Linked DNA regions of Homo sapiens. The protein of the gene in region 2 interacts with the protein of the main gene of each other region in a pairwise test. Each region holds a gene or a part of one and is shown on either strand. Other genes may lie near its edges. The genes, in order: CRABP1, TRA2A and C11orf58.

Evidence for each region.
Region 1: the proteins of TRA2A (region 2) and CRABP1 interact in a two-hybrid assay, tested with the Homo sapiens proteins (one large-scale study listed by BioGRID and IntAct).
Region 3: the proteins of TRA2A (region 2) and C11orf58 interact in a two-hybrid assay, tested with the Homo sapiens proteins (one large-scale study listed by BioGRID and IntAct).

What each region holds. Positions count from the first base shown.
Region 1 is NC_000015.10:78,345,952-78,348,794, reverse strand, and holds the end of CRABP1 (cellular retinoic acid-binding protein 1), read right to left. Parts: intron 869-2,843; coding exon 818-868; 3' UTR 570-817; downstream 1-569. UniProt on the Homo sapiens protein: Cytosolic CRABPs may regulate the access of retinoic acid to the nuclear retinoic acid receptors.
Region 2 is NC_000007.14:23,507,846-23,511,501, forward strand, and holds part of TRA2A (transformer-2 protein homolog alpha), read right to left. Parts: intron 1-3,656. UniProt on the Homo sapiens protein: Sequence-specific RNA-binding protein which participates in the control of pre-mRNA splicing.
Region 3 is NC_000011.10:16,748,532-16,752,187, reverse strand, and holds part of C11orf58 (small acidic protein), read right to left. Parts: intron 1-3,656.

The DNA.
Region 1 (2,843 bases), on a different chromosome or scaffold from region 2:
GCCAATGGACAAAATAGGTAGAGACTGAAAGGTGGGAGATTAGGATGTTTATCCCCCTTGTTCCAAGCCAAGTCTCCCCTGACCCCATAAACACTGGGGCCATGGTTTTGGCAGTGGCTCCTCTCCTAGGTTATAGCTCTCATGGTCTGGTGACCCCTCTTTCCCTTCTATCTTCAGGCCTGGGGGTGAATCCCTCCACTGCTTGTCTTTGGGTGCCTCCCCATCCTTTGCTGGCTCTATTCATCCTGCCAGTATAAACAGTCCCTTCATTATGAGCTCTTCCCTGTTAACCCCTTTTAAATGTGCCGTTTCCTGCTGGGAACTACTGATACCAAGTAATTCAATTGAACAGCCACACTGGGAGGTGCAATCACACCTGGATCTGCAGTCTGGATCCAGCCAGTCTGCGGGAGCCCAGCTTGCAACTGCTGACGTATGCTCAAAGCCCCACACCGAGGCCAGCAGGCCAAAGCTGAGAGTACCGCACAGACCAACACAGTGCTAAGGACAGTAGGTACACAATAACTCCCACGTTGAAACTGAAGAGGCAAACCAAAAAAGGGAAAAGGTTGAGACACGTCTAACCAGTTTAATGACTTCGAAACCGTGCAAATGCCAAACTATGGAGCACTAGGGATACAAGAGGCACCAAGGCCTGGGGGGTGGGGGTGGGGGACACTACAACATTGTCATGGGGAAAACGGGATCACCTAATATTGGTAGGGGAAAAGGGCGGTCCACTGGCAGCTCAGAACTATGACATATTCCTCAGGGGAGCCTGCATCCCTTCCTGAAAGTAGGAGCAAGCCAGCTGCCTTCACTCTCGGACATAAATTCTGGTGCAGACCACGTCATCGGCGCCAAACGTCTGCAGAGAAGAAGAAAAGGAAAACCAATCAGTGCAGATGCCTGTGCAAAAATGTTTAAAGCATATCACTAATAAGGCCACTTATTGCCCTGTTAAAAACTCTTTGTAACAGACATTCAATTTCCTGTGTGTGTGCTCAGGCTAAGCATTAAGGGATATTTTTTCCCCCTTAAGCGCTATTGGTAAAGAGGTAACCAGAGTATAGAATTATGTTATATACCATTTTCCTTTGCTTATGGAACCTGTAAAATGCTGACATAAGAAATGCCAGGAGTTTTGGTTTTAAAATTAAACTGAAAGGGAAAGAATGTCACAATGGACATTTCTGAAGTGGCTCTGTCTCTTTTCAAATGACTTCAAGATAGAAAGAAGCTCAGGCAGCTGGGGTCATGAGGCCCAGCACTCACCAGCCAGTTCTGTTCCTTGCTTTGGAGAAGGAATAGAACTGCTTTCCAGGAAGCAGTCATCTAACCTGGGAGACAGGCTGAGATGCTGTATATGTAATACTCAAGTCACCTGCAAGCTAGAAAATTGGTCTCAGCTGCAAAAGCACAGCATTGGCATCCAAACCTAGCCCCTGCAGCTCACAGCTGGCTAAGCTTGGGGGCAAATGTTTTCCTCTCGTGGCCTGTTTGGGAAAGGGGCAGGCAGGGGCTGGTGTTGAGGAGAGGGGTGGAGTTGACAAGATGATCATCGCAAAGGCTCTTCCAGCTAAAATTCTATGGCTCTTAGTTTGTTTGCTGTAGGGAGGACACGAATCATTGCACAGATGGAGGAGGACATTTTTCTGCTGGCCCCTGAAATGATATTGCCCACAAGTAAACTGTCTCAACTTTCCCCCAAAACTAGCAATTACTCACAGGCCTGCTCTCCTGGACCTCTCACAGGCAGTTAGAACAGGGAAAGCAATATGTATGTTAAAAAAAAAAAAAACAAAAACAAAAACCAAGAAACAGAAATTCCCCAGTCTGTAAACCTGATGTGAGTATGTTTGTTTGCAAATGTACATTTATGTGCCAGAAGGTCCTTATCTTTCAGATTCTTAAAGTGGCCTGAAATTACAGAGATGTTAAAACCACTAAACGAGGCATTTAGCTATCCTAGGATCTTTATATTCTTACCCTGCCATCTTAGTTGGTCACGAGATGCTCTCAGAGAACATATGCTAAAACATTATCCTGACACGTGTGCTTCAGGGAAATAGTTCAAGTCCTTAGTGACTGAGGAAGCAGATGCCCATCACTAGCTTCTTTTCTTTTTGAGACGGCCTTACTCTGTCACCCAGGCTGGAGTGCAATGGTGTGATGTCAGCTCACTGCAACCTCTGCCTCCCAGGTTCAAGTGATTCTCCTGCCTCAGCCTCCCAAGTAGCTGGGATTACAGGCATACACCACCATGCCCAGCTAATTTTTGGGTATTTTTAGTAGAGATGGGGTTTTACCTTGTTGGCCAGGCTGGTCTCGAACTCCTGACTTCAAGTGATCCACCTGCCTCAGCCTCCCAAAGTGTTGGGATTACAAGCGTGAGCCACTGCACCCAGCCACTAGCTTTTCATGCTAGGGATCTCCTGACCAGACTGGCAGTTATACCCACTCCTGGACACCTTTGTCCTAGCCTCTTCTCTATTGGGAAGAAATGCAGGTGATTCTGCATGCTAGGGGGTGTGGGGCTTGACTTTCCCACCGTAAGTCTACCTCGCAGATGTCTGGACGCCTCAGAACCATGTTAATTTTCCATAATTCTTTGAGTTCTACAGCCATGGATTGTCAAATGGCTGCCAGCATTTGGGTATTGAACGCTGTACCCTGGAGAAACTATTCTCACTAGCTGACAGCTCTCCCCAGCTAACAAATAGCTTCATGACATGAGAAGAAATCGCCGCATTTCCAACCACATTTGAAGCGCCCTTCTCAGCCTGCAAACTATGCTTAGAGGTTCCCGACAGAAACTCTCTGTAGAATATTCCAGAGTGGTT
Region 2 (3,656 bases):
CAGTTCTGGTTCAATTCCCATTCCCCACTCCATGAGATCAACAGGGGAGCGGAGACTGAAGTCTTTTCAAGCTAAATTTTTTGTAGGTTGCCCAGGTAGACTGCCATTTCATACTTTCTAGTCTCCAGCGATTTCACTTACAAAGACTGACTTCAGAACATTAAAAAGGGTTTGCTAAGCTTTATACATGTTCTTTTTATAACCTGCCCCCAATCTTATTCTTTAGTTTGCAGTCTAGTACACTGATTAAGACTCAGTGAGCAGCCAAGAAGAAATGATATAAACAGACAAGAACAAATTTATCGTAATGCCTTTCAACCTTTTATTGAGACTGAACTAATAAAAGTATAATAAACTAATAAAAACTACACAATTTTTATGTATCCACAAATATTTCTCCGTAAGAGTGTCCCATAAACTAAAGGTCATTAAAAAAAAAAAAAAAAAAAAAAGGAGGTCTCACTCCATTGCCCAGGCTGGCAGTGGATCATAGTTCACTGTGGCCTCAAACTTCTTGGCTTATGCAATCCTCCAGCCTTAGTCTCCTAAGTAGCTAGGACCACAGGTTTGTGCCACCATGCTCGGCTAATTAAAACAAAAATTCTTGGTAGAGAAGGGGTCTAAACAGTATTCCATTCAATGGAATGCATTTTATTATTTATTTATGAGACCAAGTTTCGCTCTTGTTGCACAGGCTGGAGTGCAATGGCGTGACCTCGGTTCACTGCAGCCTCTGCCTCCCAGGTTCAAGTGATTCTCCTGCCTCAGCCTCCCAAGTAGCTGGGACTACAGGCATGCGCCACCATGCCCAGCTAATTTTTTGTATTTTTAGTAGAGATGGGGTTTCACCATGTTGGCCAGGATGGTCTCGATCTCTTGACCTTGTGATCCTCCTGCCTTGGCCTCCCAAAGTGCTGGGATTACAGGCGTAAGCCACCACGCCTGGCCTGCATGCATTTATTTTTGTAGAGACAAGATCTGTTGCCCAGGCTGGTCTCTTAACTCGTGGCCTCAAGTGGCCTTCCCACCTCAGCCTCCCAAATAGCATGAGCCGCCTTGCACAGCCTAATTCTTGAAGATAAGAGTTGTCTCTTTGGTCTCTTTGAAAAGAACTCTGAGAGTATTATTTGTTTCTGGGACAATTTTTTTTTCCTATTCTCTCACACACATATATATATTTGTAGAGACCAAGTCTCCCTATGTTTCCCCAGGCTGGTCTCAAACTCCTGGGCTCAAGTAAATCCTCTTGCCAAAGTGCTGGGATTAGAGGCATGAGCCACCACACCCGGTCCAATTTTTAAAAAGAACTTTACATCACATAAATGTCTGCAAAAGCAAAGCTGCAACAAATTTAACACATCTTCCATTTGAAGTTCCAAAAATCAAAATTCTCTAAGTTGATCTCCCTGCACCCCATCCTAAGCACCCCCCAAAAAAACACACACAAAATCTCTAAGTACTTCTTACTAAAACAGGGTGAGGAGCTTATATTATTATCTTCACCATATGCACACTAATAACTTTGAAACTTCAGTGAAATTTTCAGAATCAGGGAGAAGTTAGTCAAAAAGGAATACAAATTTTAAAAAGATTTTAAAAATCACTTTAGGCTGGGCGCGATGGCTCACACCTGTACTCCCAGCACTTTGGGAGGCCAAGATGGGGGGATCATGAGGTATCAAGAGATCAAGACCATCCTGGCCAACATGGTGAAACCCCATCTCTACTAAAAATACAAAAATTAGCTGGGTGTGGTGGCATGCACCTATAGTCCTAGCTACTCGGGAGGCAGAGGCAGAATTGCTTGAACCCGGGAGGCAGAGGTTGCAGTGAGCCGAGATTGTGCCACTGCCCTCCAGCCTGGCAACAGAGCAAGACTCCGTCTCAAAAAAAAAAAATCACTTTAGCCAAGTGAAGTGGCTCATGCCTGTAATCCTGGCACTTTGGGGAGGCCAAATCACTTGAGGTCCAGAGTTTGAGGCTAGCCTGGGCAATGGGGCAAAACCCCGTCTCTACCAAAAAATACAAAAATTAGCCGGGCATGGTGGTGCGCACCTGTTGTCCCAGCTACTCGGGAGGCTAAGGTGGGAAGATCACTTGAGCCTGGGAGGCGGAAGTTGCAGTGAGCTGAGATCGTGCCACCACACTCCAGCCTAGGCGACAGGGCAAAGAGCAAGACCTCATCTCCAAACAAACAAAGAAACAACAAACAAACAACAAAAAAAGAAAAAAATCAAATCACTTCAGATTGCCTGTCCCTAAAGACTGGAGACAGTCTCAGCCATACAGAAGAAACCATACAACATGCCTGTGTTAGCTGAGAATTCAGCCTGGGCAACTGAAAAGAGAAACTGTGATTTAGCTGACAAGCCTCGTCACCCCGCTCCTTAAGTAACATATTGTCACCTAGTGAACTAAAAGGAACTTCTAATCCTGCCACTAAGTAACTGCTCCTGTCTTTAAAGTTGCCAGTTAAGCTTTTTTTTCTTTTCTTTTTGAGATGAAGTGGAGTCTCACTCTGTTGCCCAGGCTGGAGTGAAGTGGCACAAACTTAGCTCACTGCAACCTCCGCCTCCTAGGTTCAAGCAATTCTCCTGCCTCAGCCTCCCGAGTAGCTTGGGGTTACAGGCGCTTGCCACAATGCCCGGCTAATTTTTGTATTTTAGCAGATGGGGTTTCACCCTGTTGGCCAGGCTGGTCTTGAACTCCTGACCTCAGGTGATCTGCCCGCCTCAGCCTCCCGAAGTGCTGGGATTACAAGGTGCGAGCCACTGTGCCCGGCCTGCCATTTTAGTTTTATCCAGAAGTGGAAGGGGACAGGTGGAATCAAGAGATAAACACGTTTCACATTAAAAAATATTAATAATAAAAAAATTACACTGTTCTGGCTTGCATTTTGCAACTTTTACTTCAGCTCAGATATCCTAGTATTTCTAAATTGATAACATGTATCTCTTAATTGAGAAAAGGAATATATAAATCACAAATACGTAACAGTAAAAAAAAAAATCATAAGACTGACAAATTAAGGCATTAAACTGCCTGTGACATAAATGACTTAAAAACTAAAGTACTAGTTTGTTAGAGTTATCCGGGGTTTCTCAACCTTAGCACTATTGACATTTTGAGACTGATTCTATGTTATGGGGTGCCAGCTTGTGTACTGTATGGTTATTTAGCAGTGTTCCTGGCTTCTACCCACCAGATGCCAAGAACTTACTGTTTTTAAAAGATAGCCTTATTTGGCCAGGCGCGGTGGCTCACACCTGTAATTCCAACACCTTGGGAGGCTGAGGCGGGTGGATCACGAGGTCAGGAGATTGAGATCATCCTGGCTAACACAGTGAAACCCTGCCTCTACTAAAAATACAAAAAATTAGCTGGACATGGTGGCGGGCGTCTGTAGTCCCAGCTACTCGGGAGGCTGAGGCAGGAGAATGGCATGAACCCGGGAGGTAGAGCTTGCAGTGAGCTGAGATCGCGCCACTGCACTCCAGCCTGGGCGACAGAGCGAGACTCCATCTCAAAAAAAAAAAAAAAAAAAAAAAAAAAAAAAAAAAAAAAAGAAAAGAAAAGAAAAGAAAAACACCCTGATTATTAAGGTCTAATAAAACTTCCAGATATATACAAATATATATATATTAATTTAAAAGACA
Region 3 (3,656 bases), on a different chromosome or scaffold from region 2:
TTGTACAACTCACCATAATGTAGAAGCAGTGGGAGCCCTGAGCTTGTTTTCCCTGCAACTAGACGGTCCCATCTAGGGGTGATGGGAGACAGTGACACCCTAAGTGTGTTGCTTATGTCCAGTCTACTCTGTAATCTTGTTTGGCTGCTGTCACTACAGAAAACCCTGTTTCACAAAGACAGGAGGTTGGAAATGGAAGCAGGCTTTCCAGTGCTTTCGTGGCAATCTCAGGATGTTCCACTTTGTCTTTAATCCAGAATGTATGGAGATGTGAAGTTGTCTCAAACATACTTTTAAGGGCAACATCATTTGTGATCTTAAGCAGCTGATCCTCTTCTAGCATGAACAAAGTCGATTCACCTGGCTTATTCACAAATGGGTTGTGAATCCATTCCTTCCCAGTTCGGGGCTCTTTCGTGGCTGGAAAATAATACTCAAACTCTTTGAAGGCTGAGATAGGTGATCATGTGCCAGCTGGGAGAAAAAAGGTCCTGGCTCAGTCTCTTTTAAAATCTCTGCTAATGTTTGAAACATGTCAAAAAATCCCAATGTTCACTTGTGGCCCCCATAATACTAGTCTGGCTTTGAATGCAGCCACTCTATCTGCCAACTTGAACACAGTTTTGTTCTCCCCTGAGGTGACAGATTGAATATGTCACACAAGTAAGCAAGTTTTTTTTTTTTTTTCGAGGGAGTCTCGCTCTCTTGCCCAGGCTGGAGTGCAGTGGCATGATCTCGGCTCATTGCAACCTCTGCCTTCCAGGCTCAAGTGATTCTCGTGCCTCAGCCTCCCGAGTAGCCGGGATTATAGGCATGTGCCACCATGCCTAGCTAATTTTTGTATTTTTTAGTAAAGACGAGGTTTCTCCCCTTTGGCCAGACTGGTCTCAAACTCCTGGCCTTGAGTGATCTGCCTGCCTTGGCCTCCCAAAAGTGCTGTAATTACAGGCGTGACCCACCATGCCTGGCCAAGTAAGCAATTTTGTGACCCAATTCTGTGTCAACGAAATGTGCTGCCAGTGGTGACTTTTTCTAAAATGAAATCTCTGGAGCAGCTATTGTAACTGAAAAACAGTGGCCAGTGATCTACCTTTAGGAAGCCGTCTCTCTTCTGTGTATAAGAGAAGACGTGTGCTCTGTGTCTATCTTCTCACAGAGCTACATGAACAGATGTGAATTAAGGGCATGTACTTTAATGTGGTTGAAAATTTTAAGCACATCCTACAAAATGGTAAGTTCAGGTGGCATTTTCCAACTAGCCAGCATCTCTACAGATGACACAGTACACAGACTCACATTCAGAAGCAAGCTCTTTGACCTGAGTAGTGAAAACAGAAAGCCGTCCAGTCATGGCAGCTGCTCCATCCCTGCATATATCGATACAAAATGACCAATTCAGTTTTCCTGATATGTATTTAAAGACTTGAATAGTTCTGCAGCTGTGGTGTTGGTTGAAAGCAAAAGTGCACATAATATATCCTCATGCACATCCTCCTGAAAAATGTATCACACAAAAACAAGCATTGTTGCCTTGCTGTCAACACTGGTAGACTCATTAACCTGGATTGGGTACCACAGTGACTCATTAATTCTAACAACTGTGCCTCATATCCTCTATTAATTCATCTAGCTATGGTGCTAGCCAGAAGAGGAACATGTGCCACCTTTTGAACTGCAGGCTCTCCTAAGAGTTCACAACAGATGTCCTTAGCAGCAGGCAGGATCAACTCTTCACCAGTAGTAAAGGCCTTCTTAGCTTTAGCAATGTGATTAGCCACTAAGAATGATGCTCTCACTGCAGACACATTTGATGAAGTGGTGGCCTTCAATAATTACTTCTGTTCTTTGCGTTCACGATTTTTTCTTTTGAAAAACTCCAAAGGCTTGTCTTTTAATGCAGGGTGTTTGGTCTCCATGTGGTGAAGCACTTTTAAAGGTTTCATGGCTTTTCTGGATAGCTGGTCATCACATATTAGACAAAGCAGGTTTGGAGAATGTGAATCACCTATTGCAATGAACCTACAATTTAAGTAGGACTCTTGATATTTTCTTTTAAATGCCACTTTCTCTTTGTTGGCAGTATTAGAGTCTTCTGCTGTCTCATCATTGGGTCTTTCCCCCTTTTCAAAGAAGCTCTCCAAGGACGTTTGTTTTTTTACTCATTTTGGCTAGGGTTAGCTTGTGGGCTTACCAAAACTGTGACTGAGACAAATGCACAGTGCAGGAAAGAGACATGGATGGAAGTGGTAAATAAGTAATGGGCAGGCCACATGCAGATTAAATGTCAGATTCTGACTTAAAACCTGCCACTAGATGCAGCTTGTTACTTGCCACTCACTGAGAGGGTTTTGATATGAGTCTGCAAGCAGTTGATTGATTACGGTCTCTGTGCAGTCAAGCCTCTCTGCTAATGTTAATCTGTTTTTGCAGCCACTCCCCATTACCACCTCAGCTCCAATTCAGATCATCAGGCATTAGATTCTCATAAGGAGGCACAACCTAGATCCCTGGCTTGCACAGTTCACAATAGGGTTCATGCTCCTATGAGAATTTAATGCTGCCAATGATCTGATAGGATGCGGAGCTCAGGTGGCCATACAAGCCATTGGGAGCAGCTGTAAATACTGATAAAGCTTCTCTGGCTTGCGTGCCACTCACCTCCTGCTATGTGGTCCAGTTTCTAACAGGCCAGGGATGGGTACCGGGGATTGGGAGCTCCTGCTTTAAAGCTCTCAGTTTTAAAAGAGTAAATGTGGCAGTTGAAATATTTTTCCATTCTGCAAAGTTCAGGAATTGTTTTTTGCCTTATGTAGCAATACAAATCAATTTGAAGTAATTGTTTAACACTAGAAAAATAAAAGATCTATGAATTTCTAAAATGTGCTACATATGCTGTGTTAGCATAATTTAAATAACTTAAAGTTTTGTTAAACATAATCTAGGTCAATGTGTCTTTTATTAATATGTGCCTTTTATTACTAATGTCCAAGATTAGGGTCAGTTTTAAATAGGCAAAAATTTCACTTTTCAGCACACCAAATACCCAAATTCATTTTCAGTTTTTATTTAAAAATGTTCTTCCCTAAAATTATTTTAAAAGCTTATTTCTTTAGGCCCTGCAACTAGTTTATATTCTTCAAAGATTTTAAAACAAAATTTAGTGAATACACAAAACCAAATGCCAACTATGACATTATATGCTAATATACAAAGAACAAAAATTCTGTACATACCAGAGTTAACAAGTTGAGGCATAAAACCTCACTACAATTAAAATATATGTTCTGAATCAGTAAAAATGGAGACAGAAAAAGGTTAGTTTCTTGGTTAGAATATCATAATGACATATACTCTCTCATCTTTTAAAAATCAAAGTACATGATAATTGATACTTTATATATGTAACATGTTTACCTATTATACATTTCTAATTTTTTTTTTTGGAGACAGAGTTGCACTCTGTCACTCAGGCTGGAGTGCAATGGTGCTATCTTGGCTCACTGCAACCTCCGCCTCTCTGGTTCAGGCAATTATCGTGCCTCAGCCTCCCAAGCAGCTGGGATTACAGGTGTGAGCCACCACACCAGGCTAATTTTTTTTTTTTTTTTTTTTTTAGTAGAGACACGGTTTTGCCATGTTGACCAGGCTGGTGATTT